Linked DNA regions of Homo sapiens. The protein of the gene in region 4 purifies or fractionates together with the protein of the main gene of each other region. This does not show direct contact. Each region holds a gene or a part of one and is shown on either strand. Other genes may lie near its edges.

The links. The genes of interacting proteins can lie anywhere in the genome.
Region 1: the proteins of ALAD (region 4) and FKBP10 fractionate together in Homo sapiens (co-fractionation; one large-scale study listed by BioGRID). This does not show direct contact.
Region 2: the proteins of ALAD (region 4) and TXNDC5 fractionate together in Homo sapiens (co-fractionation; one large-scale study listed by BioGRID). This does not show direct contact.
Region 3: the proteins of ALAD (region 4) and PPME1 fractionate together in Homo sapiens (co-fractionation; one large-scale study listed by BioGRID). This does not show direct contact.

What each region holds. Positions count from the first base shown.
Region 1 is NC_000017.11:41,815,088-41,819,503, reverse strand, and holds part of FKBP10 (peptidyl-prolyl cis-trans isomerase FKBP10 precursor), read right to left. Parts: intron 2,447-4,416; coding exon 2,301-2,446; intron 1,416-2,300; coding exon 1,226-1,415; intron 1,123-1,225; coding exon 977-1,122; intron 295-976; coding exon 105-294; intron 1-104. UniProt on the Homo sapiens protein: PPIases accelerate the folding of proteins during protein synthesis.
Region 2 is NC_000006.12:7,904,289-7,908,704, forward strand, and holds part of TXNDC5 (thioredoxin domain-containing protein 5 isoform 1 precursor), read right to left. Parts: intron 436-4,416; coding exon 286-435; intron 1-285. UniProt on the Homo sapiens protein: Protein disulfide isomerase of the endoplasmic reticulum lumen involved in the formation of disulfide bonds in proteins. Can reduce insulin disulfide bonds.
Region 3 is NC_000011.10:74,173,373-74,177,788, reverse strand, and holds part of PPME1 (protein phosphatase methylesterase 1), read right to left. Parts: intron 1-4,416. UniProt on the Homo sapiens protein: Demethylates proteins that have been reversibly carboxymethylated. Demethylates PPP2CB (in vitro) and PPP2CA. Binding to PPP2CA displaces the manganese ion and inactivates the enzyme.
Region 4 is NC_000009.12:113,391,161-113,396,492, forward strand, and holds part of ALAD (delta-aminolevulinic acid dehydratase), read right to left. Parts: intron 5,296-5,332; exon of another isoform or gene 4,298-5,295; coding exon of another isoform or gene 4,247-4,297; intron 2,478-4,246; exon of another isoform or gene 2,475-2,477; coding exon of another isoform or gene 2,400-2,474; coding exon 2,287-2,399; intron 1,176-2,286; coding exon of another isoform or gene 1,010-1,175; coding exon 959-1,009; intron 464-958; coding exon 367-463; intron 1-366.

The sequences.
Region 1 (4,416 bases), on a different chromosome or scaffold from region 4:
AAGGGAGTCAAAGGGGCCCTCCCCTTCCAGGCAGCTCAGAGTGACCCCCAGCTTCGTCCACGTTTCACCCAGCCCCCGCCCTCCCACCTCAAGACCCTCCTGACCTGGAATCGAAGAGGGTGCCGTCCATCAAGGAGCCATTGTAGTGGTAGCGCATGAAGTCCCCGGCCCCGGCTCTGCGGACACAGCCGGGGGGGAGCTCCAGCGTCTCTAGCTGGACAGCGTCCTTCGGGTTGTGCACGTCAATCAGGAGGACGTGAAAGACCAGCGAGGCCTGTGGGGGGATCACTGTCCCTGGGGAAGGGATAGGGCTTGAACCATAAAATTGGGGAGCAAGCCGAGGCTCCTTCTTGACTCAGGAAGGCCCAGTGGGCACCATGCAAGACACTAGCCCCACTCTCCAGAGCCCTTTCCCGCCCATCAGCAGCCCTGCTTCTTGCTCCTCCAGTAAGACCTGAGCTGGGTTTTCCCCAGGGCCACCACCGGCTCATACTGAGCCTTCGTGTGAATCAGAATAAAGCACCCCTTCTTTTTTTTTTTTTTTTTTTGAGACAGAGTCTCGCTCTGTCACCCAGGCTGGAGTGCAGTGGCGCGATCTCGGCTCACTGCAAGCTCCGCCTCCCGGGTTCACGTCATTTTCCTGCCTCAGCCTCTCCGAGTAGCTGGGACTACAGGCGCCCCCACCACGCCCGGCTAATTTTTTTGTATTTTTAGTAGAGACGGGGTTTCACCGTGGTCTCGATCTCCTGACCTCGTGATCCTCCCGCCTTGGCTTCCCAAAGTGCTGGGATTACAAGCGTGAGCCACCACGCCCGGCCAAAGCACCCCTTCTTAGTAGCACCAAGGGTAGATTTCATCCCACCTTGAGTCCTTGGTTGGATGCCCTCGTGCAGTATACAACCTGAGCAACTGTATGTGGAGGCCTGGTTTTTCCCTCTTCTGCGGAATTTCCCCTTGTGTCCTTGCCCACCCTCACCATAGCCTTTCTCGCCATAGGCCAGGAATGGAGGGATGATAATCTTCCTTCTCTCTCCAGGACACATGCCCAGCAGCCCCTGGTCCATGCCCTTGATCAGCCAACCAGAGCCGACGTAGGTGTCATAAGTGCCGCCCTTACTGTAGCTGCAGAAAATGAGGTGGAGGTGGGAGAGGCAGGCTGGGCCCCGGATTCCCGCTCCCCATGCCACAGTCCCCAGTGCCTCAGGGCTCCCCTCCAGCCCCTCACCTGGTGTCGAAGGAGGTGCCGTCCAGCAGGGTGCCATTGTAGTGGTAGCGGACAAAGTCGCCGTCCTGGACCATGCGGGGGCAGTGGGGCGGGCGCAGCAATGTGCTCACCTGCACGGTGTCTTCCTTGTTCCACACATCCAGCAGAACCACATCGAAGTAGAGGGTGGCATCCGGTGGAATGAGCCCCGCTGTGAGAGCGCAGCAGCGTGGAGGTCTCAGAGTTCTGCTCTGCCAACCACGATCCCAGCCAGGGCCCTGTTATTCCCCTTCCTCTCATCCCAGCACCAAGAGACCCAAACCAGGGACAGAGATGCCACTATTTTTGTTTTTTTTTTTTAAGAGATAGGGGGCCAGACACAGTGGCTCATGCCTGTTATCCCAGCACTGTGGGAGGCCAAGGCAGGTGGATGGCTTGAGCCCAGGAGTTCAAGACCAGCCTGCGCAACATGGCGAAACCCCATCTCTACTAAAAATACAAAAAATTAGCCACGTGTGGTGGTGTGCACCTGTAGTCCCAGCTATTTGGGAGGCTGAGAGGGAGGACTGCTTGAGCCCAGGAGGCTGAGGTTGCAGTGAGCCGAGATCGCACCACTAAACTCCAGCCTGTGCAACAGAGTGAGATGCTGTCTCAAAAAAAAAAAGAAAAAGAAAAAAAGAGGGGTTTTGCTCTGTCACACAGGGTGGAATTCAGTGGCATGATCATGGCTCACTGCAGCCTCCCGGGGTCAAGCAATCCTCCCACCTGAGCCTTCTGAGTAGTTGGGACTACAGGCACACACCACCACACCTGGATAATTTATTTTATTTTTTGTAGAGACGAGGTCTCACTATGTTGCCTAGGCTGGTCTGGAACTCCTGGGTTCAAGCAATCCTCCCACCTCGGCCTCCCAAAACTCTGGGACCATATATGTCAGCTACTGCCCCAGCCAGAGCTGCCACTCTTCATACTGCGTGCACAGTGTGACATTGGGCAAGTCACTCCTCATCTCCGCACTTCAGTTTTCTCACCCCAGGATCCCTGATTCTGCCTCGTGGTCTCCTCCACCCCCGGCCTGTGCCCCAGCCCTTCTCACCCAGGCCGATGCTCCCATAGCCCAGGTGGGGAGGCACAATGAGGCGTCGCCGCTCGTTGACACACATGCCCATGAGGCCTCGGTCCATGCCAGTGATGAGGCGCCCCACACCCACCACGATGGCCACCAAGGTGTTGCGATCATAGCTGGGGGGGGAGGGACAGATGGGATACAGTGACCTCAGACACACACACACTGCCCATGGTGGCACAGATGCACAGGTGTGCCTGCACACACGCACACAATCCCCCCTCCCTATAGCCAGGTGTGGATACGCACACACACTTCTCACCTCCTTTTCAAGTCCCCCTCCTAGGTCGGCCGTGACGCCCACCTTAAGAGAACGGACTGTTGTGAAAGGCAAGTCCCTGAGGAGGACAAGGGCTGCTATTGCCCTGGGACGGGGTTGGGTGGGATGCCCGGGCCTGATGGCTGCTACTATTTGCTGACAGCAAGTGGGGAGTGGTACGTACAGCACGGAGGGGCAGAGGAGCATTACTATATGGGATTAAATGCTTGGCATTTTACATTCCGTATCTTCTTTGTCTCCCCTGTGAGGTGGGCATTCTTGTTCTCATTTTTCTTAATGAGAGCAATGGAGACTTGAGAGACTCAGTGCCTTGCCCAAGGTCACACAGCTAATATGTAGTCAGCTGAGTTCTAAAATTTGCCATTATACTATTGGCTCTCCAAGAAAAGACGGGAGAGCAGAGGTGGGGTGGGAGCTGGTTTCACATTTTGAAAAGGCCTATTCTACAATCCTGGCTAACACAGTGAAACCCCGTCTTTACTAAAAATACAAAACATTAGCCAGGTGTGGTGGCGGGCGCCTGTAGTCCCAGTTACTCAGGAGGCTGAGGCAGGAGAATGGCGTGAACCCGGGAGGCGGAGGTTGCAATGAGCCGAAATCGTGCCACTGGACTCCAGCCTGGCGACAGAGTGAGACTCCCTCTCAAAAAAAAAAAAAAAAAAAAAAGCCTATTCTAAAAGTGCCATGGCTTTTGTTTGTTTTTAGTTATACACTTTTAATTAATGTATTTATTTTTACTTATACATATGTATTTTTGGAGATGGAGTCTCGGCTCTGTCACCCAGGCTGGAGTGCAGTGGTGCAATCAGCTCACTGCAACCTCCACCTCCCGGGTTTAAGCGATTCTCCTGCCTCAGCCTCCGAAGTAGCAGCTGGGATCACAGGCATGCACCACCATATCTGGCTAATTTTTGTATTTTTAGTAGAGAGGGCTTTCGCCATGTTGCCCAGGCTGGTCACTCTTGGCCTCAAGTGATCTGCCTGCCTGGGCCTCCCAAAGTGCTGGGATTACAGGAGTGAGCCACTGTGCCCAGCCAATTATATACACTTTTAATTTATTTTAAGTTTTCAGAAGTAAAGTGAGGATGGGAGATTTTTTTTTTTTTAATTGAAGGGGCCATGGGTTAAGAAAGTTTTCTGGCCGAGCGCAGTGGCTCACGCCTGTAATCCCAGCACTTTGGGAGGCCGAGGCGGGCAGATCATGAGGTCAGGAGATGGAGACCACCCTGGCTAACATGGTGAAACCCCGTCTCTACTAAAAATACAAAAAAAATTGTGGAGGCGCCTGTAGTCCCAGCTAATCGGGAGGCTGAGGCAGGAGAATGGTGTGAACCCAGGAGGCGGAGCTTGCAGTGAGCAGAGATCGCGCTACTGCACTCCAGCCTGGGGGACAGAGCAAGACTCTGTCTCAAAAAAAAAAAAAGTTTTCTAAGTTGTGTGGGCGCGGGGGCTCACGCCTGTAATTCTAGCACTTTGGGAGGCTGAGGAGGGTGGATTGCCTGAGCTCAGAAGTTTGTGACCAGCCTGAGCAACATGGTGAAACGCCATCTCTACTAAAATATGAAAAATTAAGGCTGGGCGCCGTGGCTTACGCCTGTAATCCCAGCACTTTGGGAGGCCGAGGTGGGCGGATCACGAGGCTGGGGTGGCATGTCTGACTGTGTGACACGTAGACAGACAGGGCCTCCGCAGGGAGCCATGCCCTACCCCCAGGTCCAGCTGGCTGTCTTCTTATAATACCCACCCGCCTTTTTCAAGACCAGTCTGGCCAACATAGTGAAACCCCTCTCTACTAAAAATACAAAA
Region 2 (4,416 bases), on a different chromosome or scaffold from region 4:
CACTGTGTAAAATGTACCGGTGAACATCTAGCATGGCGGGACCGTCATTTTTCTCTTGCAAACACATTCTCTTATAAACAGGAAAACCCAACACTGATGAATTAAAGGTTATCCAAGTATAAAAGCCATCTAAAACAGACACAGCATTAAATGCAGTTTCTCCCTAATGACAGGGACTGCCTGCTTAAATTTAGTATCTCTTCACACCTTTACCAAAAGTTTAACTAGGACTTTCTTTGTAGCCAGGAGCCACCTAGGAAGTGTGCCCCCTTCCTTCCAACTTACGTGGGGTATCCTCGCACCCCCTGGGCGGAGCACACGTCGGAGTGGGCCGTGCAGTCCACTTTAGCCACATAGACTTTGGCATCTTCCATGCTGTTGTATTTGTCTCCCAGGTCATTCCAAGTCGGCTGCAGCCGCTGGCAGTGTCCACACCTGGAACAAGGCAAGAGTACAAGCACATTGAGTATCAGGTCACAGGGCAGCTGGCCCACAACTTCAGCTCTGTCCAGGGGACAATGGGGCTCTCAGTCCTTTCTTTACACCATTGCAGATGGCAGCTCCTGGACCAGTACTCCAGGACCTCTCTCCCCTGCTCCCATCCCTCCAGAGTCACTGCCCTGTTCTCAGCATGAAATCTTGGCCTTGTTCCAGTATTAAACTTAGCAAAGTGTTGTTCTGGATCCTAGTTGTTCTGGCCCTGCTGACCTCCCGCTTGACTTCTATCCCAGAGTCCACCCTCCTTCCCTTGTGGCCTACTCCTGAGCCCTACTGCAGCATCTGCAGTGTTCCCAAAGGACTATAGCTTGGCTTGGCCCTGGGACACATTCTCTCTGACACTTCGTCCCTAAACTCCACCTAGCTAAATCTATCTGCCCTTCAGGTTTAGTTTGGGTGTCACTTCCTCTAGCAAGTTGGCCCTGACTCCCCGGGCTGTTCAGCACCCATTCTCTTCTCCTGCCCTTCTGGAAAGCCTCTCTACTCCTCCCTTGGACAGTAGCTTAGCACTTCCTGCTGTATCTGCTACTTTTATTCGTCAAGTCTCCTCCACTATATAACCAAATGGCTACAAACATAAGGCAATCTCAAAATTTAATCACCTGCAATTTTCTCCAATGAGAAGGGGAAAAAAAAAGTTTGTGGCCACCTATACTTCTAGGGTTGAAGTAAGCAAATGTCTATTCTTAGTATTCATTGTATGAATTCAGTTATGTATAAATATTTTAAAATCACCCATCATTTAAAATAGTATCTTAACTAGGCTTCTTGCCATGCTTCACATTTCATGAGGATATCAGCATCTTTCCCAACACTAGACCTTAAGTCATACAGCTGACCACAGCTCTTGCTGTGTTCTCTGGACAGTATGTCTACAGTGCCATACTCGAATTTTGAATGAGACAACCCTAGAAACTTTATCCCAGGTTTCAACTACAATCCCATAGCATTATGACACATGGGTTTGTTTGCTATTTAATATGGCAGGAACACACTGATGCCTACAATGTAACCACTTTGCTGTATCGCTTTTTAAAATGCTTTTTTTTTAAACACACTTGCTTATATGAACACTCAACGCTTAGAATTGTGACTTCTTCCTCAAAATAATTTAATAATCTGTTAAATCTCCTTTTATTTTCTGACAGATTACCTCAAAAATAAGCATTTAAGTCGGTAGCAGTGGCTCATGCCTGTAATCCCAGCACTTTGGGAGGCCAAGGCAGGAGAGCTGCTTGAGCCCAGGGGTTCAAGACTGGCCTGGGCAACACAGTGAGACCCCCATCTACAAAAAATTTTAAAAAATTAGCCTGGTGTGGTGGCACACACCTGCAGTCCTAGCTACCTGGGAGGCTGAGGCAGAGGGATCACTTGAGGCCAGAAGTTTGAGGCTGCAGCGAGCTATGATCACACCACTGCACTCCAGCCTGGGTGACAGAGATTTTGTCTCTTAAGAAAAAAAGGATTTAAGCCGGGTGTGGTGGCTCACACCTATAATCCCAGCACTTTGGGAAGCCGAAGCAAGCGGATCACAAGGTCAGGAGTTCGAGACCAGCCTGACCAACAAGGTGAAGCCCCATCTCTACTAAAAATACAAAAATTAGCTGGGCATGGTGGCACACGCCTGTAATCTCAGCTACTCAGGAGGCTGAGGCAGGAGAATCGCTTGAACCCGGGAGGCGGAGGTTGCAGTGAGCCGAGACCATGCTATTGCACTCCAGCCTGGGCGATAGAGCAAGACTCCATCTCAAAAAAAAAAAAAAAAAAAAAAGAAAAACAGACTTAAAGGTAGCACTGAAAAAGTCTGCTTCAAGTTAATGTGTCTTCCCTAAACAGCACTTTCTTGGCCAGCTAAGAGAATCCCTGCTTTATGAGATACTCAGATACAAAAAAAAAAGCACAATGAAACTATACATGCAGATTTAACTTCTGTAGATTCAACAAAGTGAGTTTATGTGGCGGGGGAGAAGGAAACAAGAAAAAAAAAAAGGCAATTCCCACAGAACCCTGAAGTGTGTGCAAGCTGGGAGATGTGAGGTTTTTGTTCCTCAGCAGGCCTTGGTTCCTACATGCTTCTCATGGCATGAGCATCTCTCCGACTACATTAAGTGTGACCCTGCTGTCTAAAGGCACAGGTTTGAGAACTAGTCCATTTGGTGTTTAACCAAAGAAGCCATGATAGTTCTAATGCTGGAGGAAACGCTGGCAGTGGGGACTGACTGACTGACTGGGGCGGTGTCCAACAAGGCACCTTCCTAAGGGACTGTCAAGGGCAGTTCTGACCTTCAGGGGACTTTGATCAGATATGCTCATTCTGGAACTTTAGAACTCCTCTGCAATCTTGACAAGGTTTTGTTTTGCTACTGCTTTTTTTTTCCCTTTTTTTTTTTTGAGAAAACACAAGATTAGATTAAGAATGAGAATAAACAATAAATAAGTTTGTGGTGCGCTAAATCAAAACTGACCATTCTGGGCCATCACCAAGTTGGGCGTGCCCTTGCTCCTGGCTGTGATGGGGCCACAGGTGCTATCTAGTCGGCCCTGCGGCTACAGCACCCAACTCTGAGACAGGCAGCTGCACTCAGAAGGTAGCCTGTGGCCAAGAAGTAGAGCAAAGCTACCTGGTCCAAATCTTGACCTCACTGTCACCAGGTTCAGGGTGACTCACAAACTGGCCATACAGAAGTTGTGACCTGATGTTGGCAAAAAATCTACAGCAGCAGGATAACCCTGCAGAAGCCAAGTGCAGGGCAAAAATACACAGATTGATGTTTTTGTTACAGGGGCCCCAGCCCCTTAATCACACGTGGGCTTTCACCACTCCACGGCAGCTGAAACTGGAAAAAGGTATGTGTGTGTTGAGGGGGAGTCCACTGAGTCTTCTATCTGAGCTCCAAACGCTCAGCTCACCACTCCAGGACCTCCTTCCCTCTCCTGCATAGACCCCTCCAGAGTCACCACCTTGCTCTCAGCCTTACAACTTACCAAAGTGTTGTGCCAGGTATTGTTGGTCCTACTTGATCTTGCCCCTGCTGACCTCCCATTTGACTCGCCGCCCACTCAGCCTCCTTTCCTGGCAGCCTATTCGTGAGCCCTACTGCAGTATCTGCAGTTTTCTGAAAGGGCCCTCTTAAAAGTCCAACTTAAACACCATCATAGAAACCCACATATCTCTGTTTAAGTATTTGTAGTAGACTATCAAGAAGTCAACAAATATGCCAGGTGCGGTGGCTTACGCCTGTAATCCCAGCACTTTGGGAGGAAGAGGCGGGCAGAACACGAGGTCAAGAGATCGAGACAATCCTGGCCAACATGGTGAAACCCCATCTCTACTAAAAATACAAAAATTAGCTGGGCGTGGTGGCACGCACCTGTAGTCCCAGCTTCTCAGGAGGCTGAGGCAGGAGAATCGCTTAAACCCAGGAGGTGGAGGTTGCAGTAAATCAAGATTGCGCTACTGCACTCCAGCCTGGCAACAGAGCAAGACTCCATCTCAAAAAAAAAAAAAAAAAAAAAAAGTAACAACATAAAGCTAATTATTCTGGAAGCATCCAGCTAAATGTCTACAAGCCACATATAATGGAAAAGGAATTTACTTAATACCAAGTGCCCAGATGTGCCAGTTTTCTCTCACTCAGCCCAGGACTAGCTGGTATTTATTGCAAAGATTCTAAACTTAAAATTCCTTTGGCACTGTGGGGACTTATTACATCTGCATGTCAGTTTTTCTTTAAAAAAAAAAAAAAAGTAAAGAATGGGATGCGATGGCTCATGCCTGTAATCTCAGTACTTTGGGAGGCCAGGGCAGAAGTACTGATTGAGGCCAGGAGTTTGAGACCAGCCCCGGCAACATAGCGAGACCCTGTTTCTACCAACTACAACAAAAACAACAACAACAAAATAAGCTGGGTGTGATGA
Region 3 (4,416 bases), on a different chromosome or scaffold from region 4:
CAAGGAACATTCAACATCATAAAAACGTTTATTCTAAATTAATGTTTGTATTTAATGTAATCCCAATAAAAATACTATCAGGATTTTTTTCTGGCACTAGTCTATGGGATTAGAAAGTTTATTTGTGAGAAAAAAACAAGAGGAACCACGAAAATCCTCAAAATGAATGAGGGGTAAACAACCTCTACCACCCATCAAAACATATTAATAAATCCTCTAATTAAAAGTACAGTAGTGGCACGTAAAAGAAACTCCACAGACCCGGATTTATATAGAAATTTGGCATATGACAAAGGTGTCATTTTAATCAGTGAGAAAGAAGACTTTTTTTTTTTTTTTTGAGACAAAGTCTCACTCTGTGTCCCAGGCTAGAGTGCAGGGGCATTATCTTGGCTCACTGCAACCTTTGCTTCCCGGACTCAAATGATCCTCCAGAGTAGCTGGGACTACAGGCACACACCACCACACCCAGCTAAATTTTTGTGATTTTTGTAGAGAAGAGGTTTCACCATGTTGTCCAGGCTGGTCTCCAACTCCCAAGCTCAAGTGGTCCACATGCCTTGGCCTCCCAAAGTGCTGGGATTACAGGCATGGACCACTGAGCCTGGCCAGGACTATTTCTTTATTGTAGTGAAATTTACGTAATGGGTAAAGGACTAAAAAATTTAATAAATGATGAAAACAACTAGATAGCCTTTGGATAAAAATAAAATGTCTTCTTTTCCTCACTTTGCATATCAAGATAAACTTCAAATGGATTAAAAAAAAATTGGCTCATGCCTGTAATCCCAGCACTTTGGAAGGCTGAGGTGGGTGGATTACCTGGGGCCAGGAGTTCAAGAGCAGCCTGGCCAACATAATGAAACCCCGTCTCTACTAAAAATACAAAAATTAGCTGGGTGTGGTGGTGCATGCCTGTAATCCCAGCTACTTGGGAGGCTGAAGCAGGAGAATCGCCTGAACCCGGGAAGTGGAGGTTGTAGTGGGCCAAGATCACACCACTGCACTCCATCCGGCCTCGGTGACAGAGCAAGACTCTGTCTCAAAAAAAAAAAAAAAAAAAAAAAGGACACTACACAGGTACCAGGAAAAAATATAAATGATTCCTTTATAACCCAAAAAAAGGAAAAGCCTTTCTGTGACTCAAGATCCAGAAGCAATACATGCTGGGAGGAAGGGAAGATGCTAATGAGTAACGAGTTTATGGGAGGATGAAAATGTTCTGCAATTAGTGGTGGTAATTGTACAACTGAGTGAATATACCAAAAATCACTGAATTGTACATTTAAAAGAGTGAATTCTATGGCATATAAATTTAACTTTTTAAAAATCTAATGAAAAAATAAAAAAAAAAACAGAAATACTGGGATTTGATTATTTTAGTAACTCAATTTGTGACCTTGAGCAAATCACTTCACTTTGCCCTTTATTTCCCCATCTGTGTGAATAGCTCATTAAAGCCTTCCTAAGAGGCCTGATATCCATAATAAATTTAAGAAGATGGATGAAAGACTATCTAATCAGATATGAATAAACATACAGCTTGTGGGGACAAAAAAGCTGATAACATAAGAAACTGAAAGGAGAGCTTCCACATAAACTATGAACCTTCTTCACAGTTCTCAATGTATAATTATCTACTAGCTATCATTCTTTAAGAGCTTATGTGTCAGTGTCAGGAACTATAAGTGCTTTTTATGTATTATCTTATTCTCACAGCACTCTCAGGTAAGCAGAAGTATTCTCATTTTAGAGATAAGAAAATAGACTATGAGAAGTTAAATGACTCGACCAATGTAAATACCTAAGTTGGGCTTCAAACTTAGATCTTTGTCACTTCAAATATCAAACCCTTCAATGCAAGCTATAGAAAGAACAATGGACTAAAAATACGAAGTCCTGGGTTTGAATGTTGTTCCTGCCACATAATGATTCTGTGATCTTAGGCAAGTCAATGAACATTTCAGTTTTCTCATTTATTAAAAGAAAATATTAACTCCTGCCCTAGTTTACCTCATAGAATATAAAAAGGGACTACTATATACATGTCAGTTAAATCACTACAGAGCTGGGCATGCTAGCATGTATCCTCAGTCCTACCTACTCAAGAGGATGAAGTGGGAAGACTGCTTGAGCCCACGAGTTTGAGGTTGTAATGCACCAAGATTATGCCTGTGAAAAGCCACTGTACTTCAGCCTGGGCAACACAGCAAGACTCTATCTCTTGCAAAAGAAAAAAAAAGGAATTTAAGAGATAATAATAGAAAAGTAGAACTTTTTTTTTTTTGAGATGGAGTTTCGCTCTTGTTGCCCTGGCTGGAGTGCAATGGCGCGATCTCGGCTCACCACAACCTCCGCCTCCCAGGTTCAAGTGATTCTCCTGCCTCAGCCTCCTGAGTAGCTGGGATTACAGGCATGTGCCACCACGCCAGCTAATTTTGTATTTTTAGGAGAGACGGTGTTTTTCTATGTTGGTCAGGCTGGTCTTGAACTCCCGACCTCAGGTGATCCACCCGCCTCGGCCTCCCAAAGTGCTGAGATTACAGGCATGAGCCACCACACCTGGCCAAAAAGTACAACTACTGATAAACCAAAAACACGTTGAATAATGAATGGCTTTAATATTTTATAGTTCCTCTAATAGTAATAGTATATACGAAAGCAGTGACTTTCAAAAGATACTTCTCTCAAGCACACCAGGGGTGCAAAGCAAATAGGGATCTCAAATCTACTTTAGTCAGAGTAGCTCTAAAAGCTTTAATAAAGAAGTTCAAAACCACTGTTTTTGGCAACATCCATTGGCATCTATTAAAAGGAAGAGTGACACCAGGATTTCAGGCCTTACCCAAGAGAAAATATTAGTGTACTGAAAAGTGAATGGATTCTAGAGACTAAACTTAGATTGAATCCTAGCTCTGCTACCTACTAGTTGGGTTACTTTTAATCTCTGGGTCTGAATGTCTTTACCCACAATGCAGGAAAATATTCACCATGCAGGTCTGTGGACACATTAAATAACATAAAGTTACCATTACAATGTCTGGCACACAGTACTTACTTTAAAAATTGCTATTATTAAATTATCCAACAATACTTTGGAATTACTAAATCTAATCTGAAAAACTGAATTATGGAAACTCATGAAAAATCACCAACTCAGAATATGCACCCTGAATATGCAAACATGCCTAAATAATGTTTAGTGAAATTGAAGGCAAGAGATCATGAAAAATAGTTAAGAGTAAGCCACACAAGAGACTATCAAGAGAACAGGACTAACTTGTGAGTAACATAGATAGAGTGGAAGAATGGAAGTTAAGAAAAAAGCAAGTAAGCATAAGGAGACATAAAGAATGCTTTGAAATTGGTGTGAGACTTCATAAATTACGACTGAAGAAAAAGACTGAATCCTAGATTATATGCAAATGAGTAAGATACACAACTCAAAATAAGTATCCCCAGATGACAATTATGACTCCAAAATACACAATGGGTCTCACAGTCAAGAGACCCAAGTCCTAGTCCTTAACGGCCCTACCGCTAAGCTTCTAGGGTACCTTAGGAATATCTGAGTCTCAGTTCCCTCATTTATTAATACATTCCCTTATAGAATACAGAACTCTCTGAATATTGGGTTCCTCAACTACATGAAGTGGTGAAATGAGACCATGTCTATGCTTTCTCTCAGCTTTATGATTCTAAGGAGAAAGAGAATCTATATTATTACTACCATGAGACTTAGATGAAGCCTGCTTATATACCAATAAAGTAGAAAAGAAAGATACGGGAAAATAAGCCATTTGAGGACCACACAAATATTCGCCAATATATGCTCTTCTCTTCACAATACTATCATAAAGAAAGGCCTTTCTAAAGAACTTTCTTTTCCAGGATAAGCAGTTAACCTAAACCAAGAAGACCAAAGCATCTTTTTAAAAAGGTAAGTTGTCCAGGCACAGTAGCTCACTCCTATAATCCCAGTACTTTGGGAAGCCAAGTGGGGCAGATCACTTAAGGCCAGGAGTTTAAGACCAGCCTGGCCAACATGGCGAAATCCCCTCTCTACTAAAAATACAAAAATTAGCCGGGCGTGGTGGTGCATGCCTGTAATCCCAGCTACTTGGGAGGCTGAGGCACAAGAATCACTTGAGCCCGGGAGGTGGAAGTTGCAGTGAGCCGAGATTGTGCCACTGCACTCTAGCCTGGGCAACAGAGTGAGACTCTGTCTCTAAAAAAAAATAAAATGAAAAGTAATAAAAAATAAAAACGATAAATTACTAACAATTATACAATCTTCTAATCAGCAGATTTTCCTTTTTTTTTCTCTCAGTATCTTCATTCAGTTCTTCAATCTTCAGAGAACTTGTTTCTCCAAGATGAGAAGCTGAGCTCTAATTAAGCTTATCTAAGGAATGT
Region 4 (5,332 bases):
GTCAGTGTGGACCCTCAGTCCACCTTTGCCCAACCTCCCTTCCTTTTTCTGTTTGTATTGGAGACAGGGTCTTGCTCTGTCACCCAGGCTAGAGTGCACTGGCGCGATTTTGGCTCACTGCAGCCTCGACTTTCTGGGCTCAAGCAATCCTCCCACCTCTCCACCTCCCGAGTAGCTGGGACTACAGGCACATACCCCCACACCCAGCTAACTTTTGTATTTTTTGTAGAGATGGGTTTTGCCATGTTGTCCAGGCTGGTCTCAAAATCCTGGGCTCAAGTGATCCACCCACTTTGGCCTCCCAAAGTGCTGGGATTACGGGCGTGAGCGCAACCTCCCTTCTTAGCCCTTCCTTTGATTCTTCACCTTGGGAACTCTGCTGGGGACGCCAAAGATCAAGACACAGCGTAGGCCCTCTTCCACCAAGGGCCTCAGCATCTCTTCCAGCCGCTTCACACCATACCTGTGTGGGTGTGGGTAGAGGGGTTGAAGGAAGGCAGGTCCCAGGCAACGGTCCTCCGGACCCCACCACACTGTGTGCCTCTGTTAGAAACCAAGCTGCATATGGCACCAGGAGGGCTCAAGCCCCCAGGACAGAAGGGGCAGGGATGCATCCACTAAATAGGAGGGAAGACTGAGGCCCTGAGTAGCAGAGCTCCGGAATTCGGCTGTGGAAGGCTCCTTCGAGGCCCTCTTTTTGAACTCCCATCTGCAGTTCAGCTCCCTTCTGCAACAGCCTCTGCCACGACGTCTCGGGTGATGGGTAGCTCTTTACTTTATGGGGCTGCCCCTTCCACTGTGGAACAGCTCTGGCCCCGGGGAAACCCTTTCCTCTACTGAGCTAATGTCTGTCTGTCCGCATCTTCTACTTCCTAGGTCTGCTTCTGCCTCCCAGCACTTCCACCTGTGGAATCTCTCCCTCCACCACCCGCTGGCCCCCCAACTCCACGTCTCCTACCTGGCCACTCCTGGGAGGCTGGTGATAGGCTGTATGTCATCAGGAACATCCCTGCAAGAGCGGGGGTGGGATATGGATTGGTAGCTGTGGGAAGGGCCAGTGGTGCGGGGGCGACTGAGAGGGATGGTTGGGAAGCAGGAAAGAAATATGGAAGTGGAGATGGTGGGAGGAGGATGGGATCCAGTGTCTGGCTTCCCTGCCTGGCCAAGCCCAGGGCCTGAAATAATAATAGGAACAACAAGAATAACAGTGACAACACTAGCAACTGTACTAAAAGAACGGTAATTACAGGAAGGAATTAAGTGGTTAAGAACTTGGACTCTGAATTTGGCAGGTCCTTGCTTTCTATCCCAGCCACTTACTGCCTGGGTGACCGTGGCCAAGTTCTATCATCTCTTTGAGCCTTAGGCCTTCATCTATATCATGCGTGGTTAATTCATTCATTCAACAAATATTTATTGAGTACTTATTATGTGCCAAGTACTGTTCTAGGCCCTGATGATACAACAGTGAACAAAATAGACAAACATCCCTGCCCTCATGGAGCTGATGTTCTAGAGGATAGCTACTCCTTCTTCATACAAATGCTCTCAGAATTGAATGAGATAATGTGTGTAGGTGCTTAGCATAGTACCTGGTAGATAGTAAGTACTCAGTAAATGTCTGCATTATTATTAACAATCACGATTGCCATCTCTTTTTTTTTTTTTTTTTTTTGAGATGGAGTCTGGCTCCGTCGCCCAGGCTGGAGTGAAGTGGTGCAATCTCGGCTCACTGCAAGCTCCGCCTCCCGGGTTCACGCCATTCTCCTGCCTCAGCCTCCCAAGTAGCTGGGACTACAGGCACCCGCCACCACGCCTGGCTAATTTCTTTGTGTTTTTAGTAGAGACAGGGTTTCACCATATTAGCCAGGATGGTCTCGATCTCCTGACCTCGTGATCCGCCTGCCTCAGCCTCCCAAAGTGCTGGGATTACAGGCGTGAGCCACCGTGCCCAGCCTCAATGACTGCCATCTCTTACAGGTACATAGCACTTTACAATGTACAGAGCACCTTCTCAGCTTCTGTCTTACTGCAAGAGCTCAGGATGGCAGGCAAGGGTTATTCTTCTAATTTTCCAAATGGGATGAATGAGTTCTTTCAAAGTTTGTTTTGTTCCTAAGATTCCTGTCCTTAATCCAAGTAGCCTGCTTCCAGTGCCTTGAATTTCAAGCTGACAGCTCACTTTGCCACCCCCAGCCATACTGATGCCCGCTCCAGTCAACACTCCCTCCCCAACCCCAACCCCAACCAGCAGAGCAGAGGCCTGGCCCATTCTTGGAGACTCACGTGACAAAGATGGGGTAGATGAGGTTGGAGGCATTGAGGGTGGTGGTGGCTGTCTGCCAGGCCCGAAGTAGTGGGTGGAAGTAGCCGCTGTGCAGAACGGACTGGGGCTGCATGGCGTGGGCCAGTGGGCACAGGGGCATCAGTTGGTTGGAACCGAGGGCTCCTGGGGCATTGGCTGCAGGCTCTGTCTGTGGGGGGTGATGGGTGGCACATGAGACATGGTCCCTGTCCTCAGGAGATGGTCACATCTGGAAAACAGCTCTTCTAGATTCCTGCCTCCCCTCTCTCTAGCCCAATGCTACTCACAGCATGGTTCACCAATCCCTGCTGGTCAACAAGGTAAGTTGAGAAATGAAAGTAAGTCTTTAGAAACTTTCATGACAATCAGAATCTAATGATATAAAATTTGGGCTTGTATTTTATGTGACTGCTTCTTGTTCATTATTATCTTTTAAAGTAAACATCTGAGCAAGCAATGACTGTTTAAAAAAAATTCTCTTCTTTTTTTTTTTTTCACACAGGGTCTCTGTCGCCCAGGCTGGAGTGCAGTGGTGCAATCTCGACTCACTGCAGCCTTGACCTCCCGGGCTCAACTGTTTCTCCCAACTCAGCCTCCCAAGTAGCTGGGACTGCAGGTGTGCACCACAACATCCAGCTAATTTTCGAATTTTTTGTAGAGATGGAGGTCTTGCCATGCTTCCCAGGATGGTCTCGAACTCCTGGGCTCAAGCAATCTGCCTGCCTCAGCCTCCCAAAGTGCCGGGATTACAGGCGTGAGCCACGGTGCCTAGCCAAAAAAGTAATTTTCTAGCTGGGCATGGTGGCTCACGCCTGTAATCCCGGCACTTTGGGAGGCTGAGGTGGCAGGATGGCTTGAGCCCAAGAGTTCGAGACCAGCCTGGGCAACATGGCGAGACCCTGTATCTACAAAAAGTTTAAAAATCAGCCAGGTGTGGTGGTCCACACCTGTAGTCCCAGCTACTCAGGAGGCTAAAGCAAGAGGATCGCTTGAGCCCAGGAGTTCAAGGTTGCAGTAAGCTATGATTGCACCACTGCACTCCAGCCTGGGTGAGAGAGGGAGACGTCTCTAAAAAAAAATAATAATTTTATTGCATTGCATTTTATCAAAGAATCAATAAATTGGAAATAGAAAAAAAAGAACTAATCCTTCCTTATGCATAAAGAAGCACTGATCTAGCCAACATTTAAACTTTGTTTATTCCACAAAAAATGCCCGTGTTCATGGCAGAACTTTTAGAAAAGTGCAGATAAGCAAAAAGAGAAAAATCCCCTGCAATTCTACCTCTAGAGAAAAGTACTGTTGGCCGGGCATGGCGGCTCACACCTATAATCTCAGCACTTTGGGAGGCTGAGATGGGCAGATCACTTGAGGTCAGGAGTTCGAGACCAGCCTGGCCAACACAGTTAAACCCCACCTCTACTAAAAATACAAAAAAAATTAGCTGGGCGTGGTGGTGCGTGCCTGTAATCCCAGCTACTGGGGAGGCTGAGGCAGGAGAACTGCTTGAATCCAGGAGGAGGAGGTTGCAGTAAGCCGAGATAGCGCCACTTCACTCCAGCCTGGGCGACAGAGCAAGACTTCATTCCAAAAAAAAAAAGAAAGAAAGAAAAGAGAAAAGTACTTGGGACATGGATTTTTTGTTAGGTACAATGCACACCAATAGGAGAAAATAGTACCATTCATGTTAGATAGACAGACAGACACATACACTGTATAGAGTGCCACCAAATCTTTTCTAGCCCAAGGAGTTTCCTGGGCTCCACGAGCACAAGCTACACCTTCTTGCTTTCCTAACCTTGTCCCTTTACCTGAAAGGCTGTGCTCTCCCCACAGCCTCCCCGCACCCAAATCTACAGGGTTCTCCTTCCCTCTCCCACTGAGGCTGTCTTGTCCAGATTGCAGTCTCTCTTATGTAAGTTATCTGTGGACCTGTCTTACCTCATGCCAGTAGACAGAGCTTCTGCAGGGCAAGGTCCAGAGTTGGTTCATTTTTGCCTCCCCTACAGTGCTCTGTCACACACTGACCTTGGCACACAGTAAATATTTAATTACGTGAAGTACAAAAATATGCTCCAAATGCCAAATTAGTGGACACAAGACAGAAGGAAGCTGGGGCATTAACATTTGTTTCTTGAGCACCTACTGTGTGCCAGACCATGCCTGGCATTTTCACAGGTGATTTCTCATCAAGTGGGCACTACAGTCCTGGCAGGCAGGGCTGATTGAGTGCATGGAGCCTGACCAGAAGTGAGCCATGGCTCCAATGGGAGTGAGGAGGTCAGAAGAGGCATATTAGAAGAAGACAGGCGCCAGGCGTAGTGGCTCACACCTGTAACCCCAGCACTTTGGGAGGCTGAGGCGGGTGGATCACTTGAGGTCTGGAGTTTGAGACCAGGCTGGCCAATGTGGTGAAACTCCGTCTCTACTAAAAATACAAAAATTAGGCCAGGCACGGTGGCTCACGCCTGTAATCCCAGCACTTTGGGAGGCCGAGGTGGGTGGATCACTTGAGGTCAGGAGTTTGAGACCAGCCTGACCAACATGGTGAAACCCCATCTCTACTAAAAATAAAAAAAAATTAGCCGGGTGTGGTGGCACATGCCTGTAATCCCAGCTACTTCAGAAGCTGAGATAGGAGAATCCTTTGAACTTGGGAGGCGGAGGTTGCAATGAGCCGAGATCGTGCCATTGCACTCCAGCATGGGCAACAAGAGAGAAACTCCATCTCACAATAAATAAATAAATAGAAATAAAAATAAAAATACAAAAATTAGCTGGGTGTGGTGGTGTGCACCTGTAGTCAGAGTTCCTCTGGAGGCTGAGGCAGAAGAATCGATTGAACCTAGGAGGCAGAGGTTGCAGTGAGCCGAGAGTGCACCCATTGCACTCTAGCCTGGGCGACAGTGTGAGACTCCATCTCAAAAAAAAAAAAAAAAAAGAAAATGACAGGGCGTTGAACTTGGTTTTGCAGGATGAGTGGGTTCAGCCTGGTGGAGAGAAGGGGGCCAATATTTCCTTAGGAAG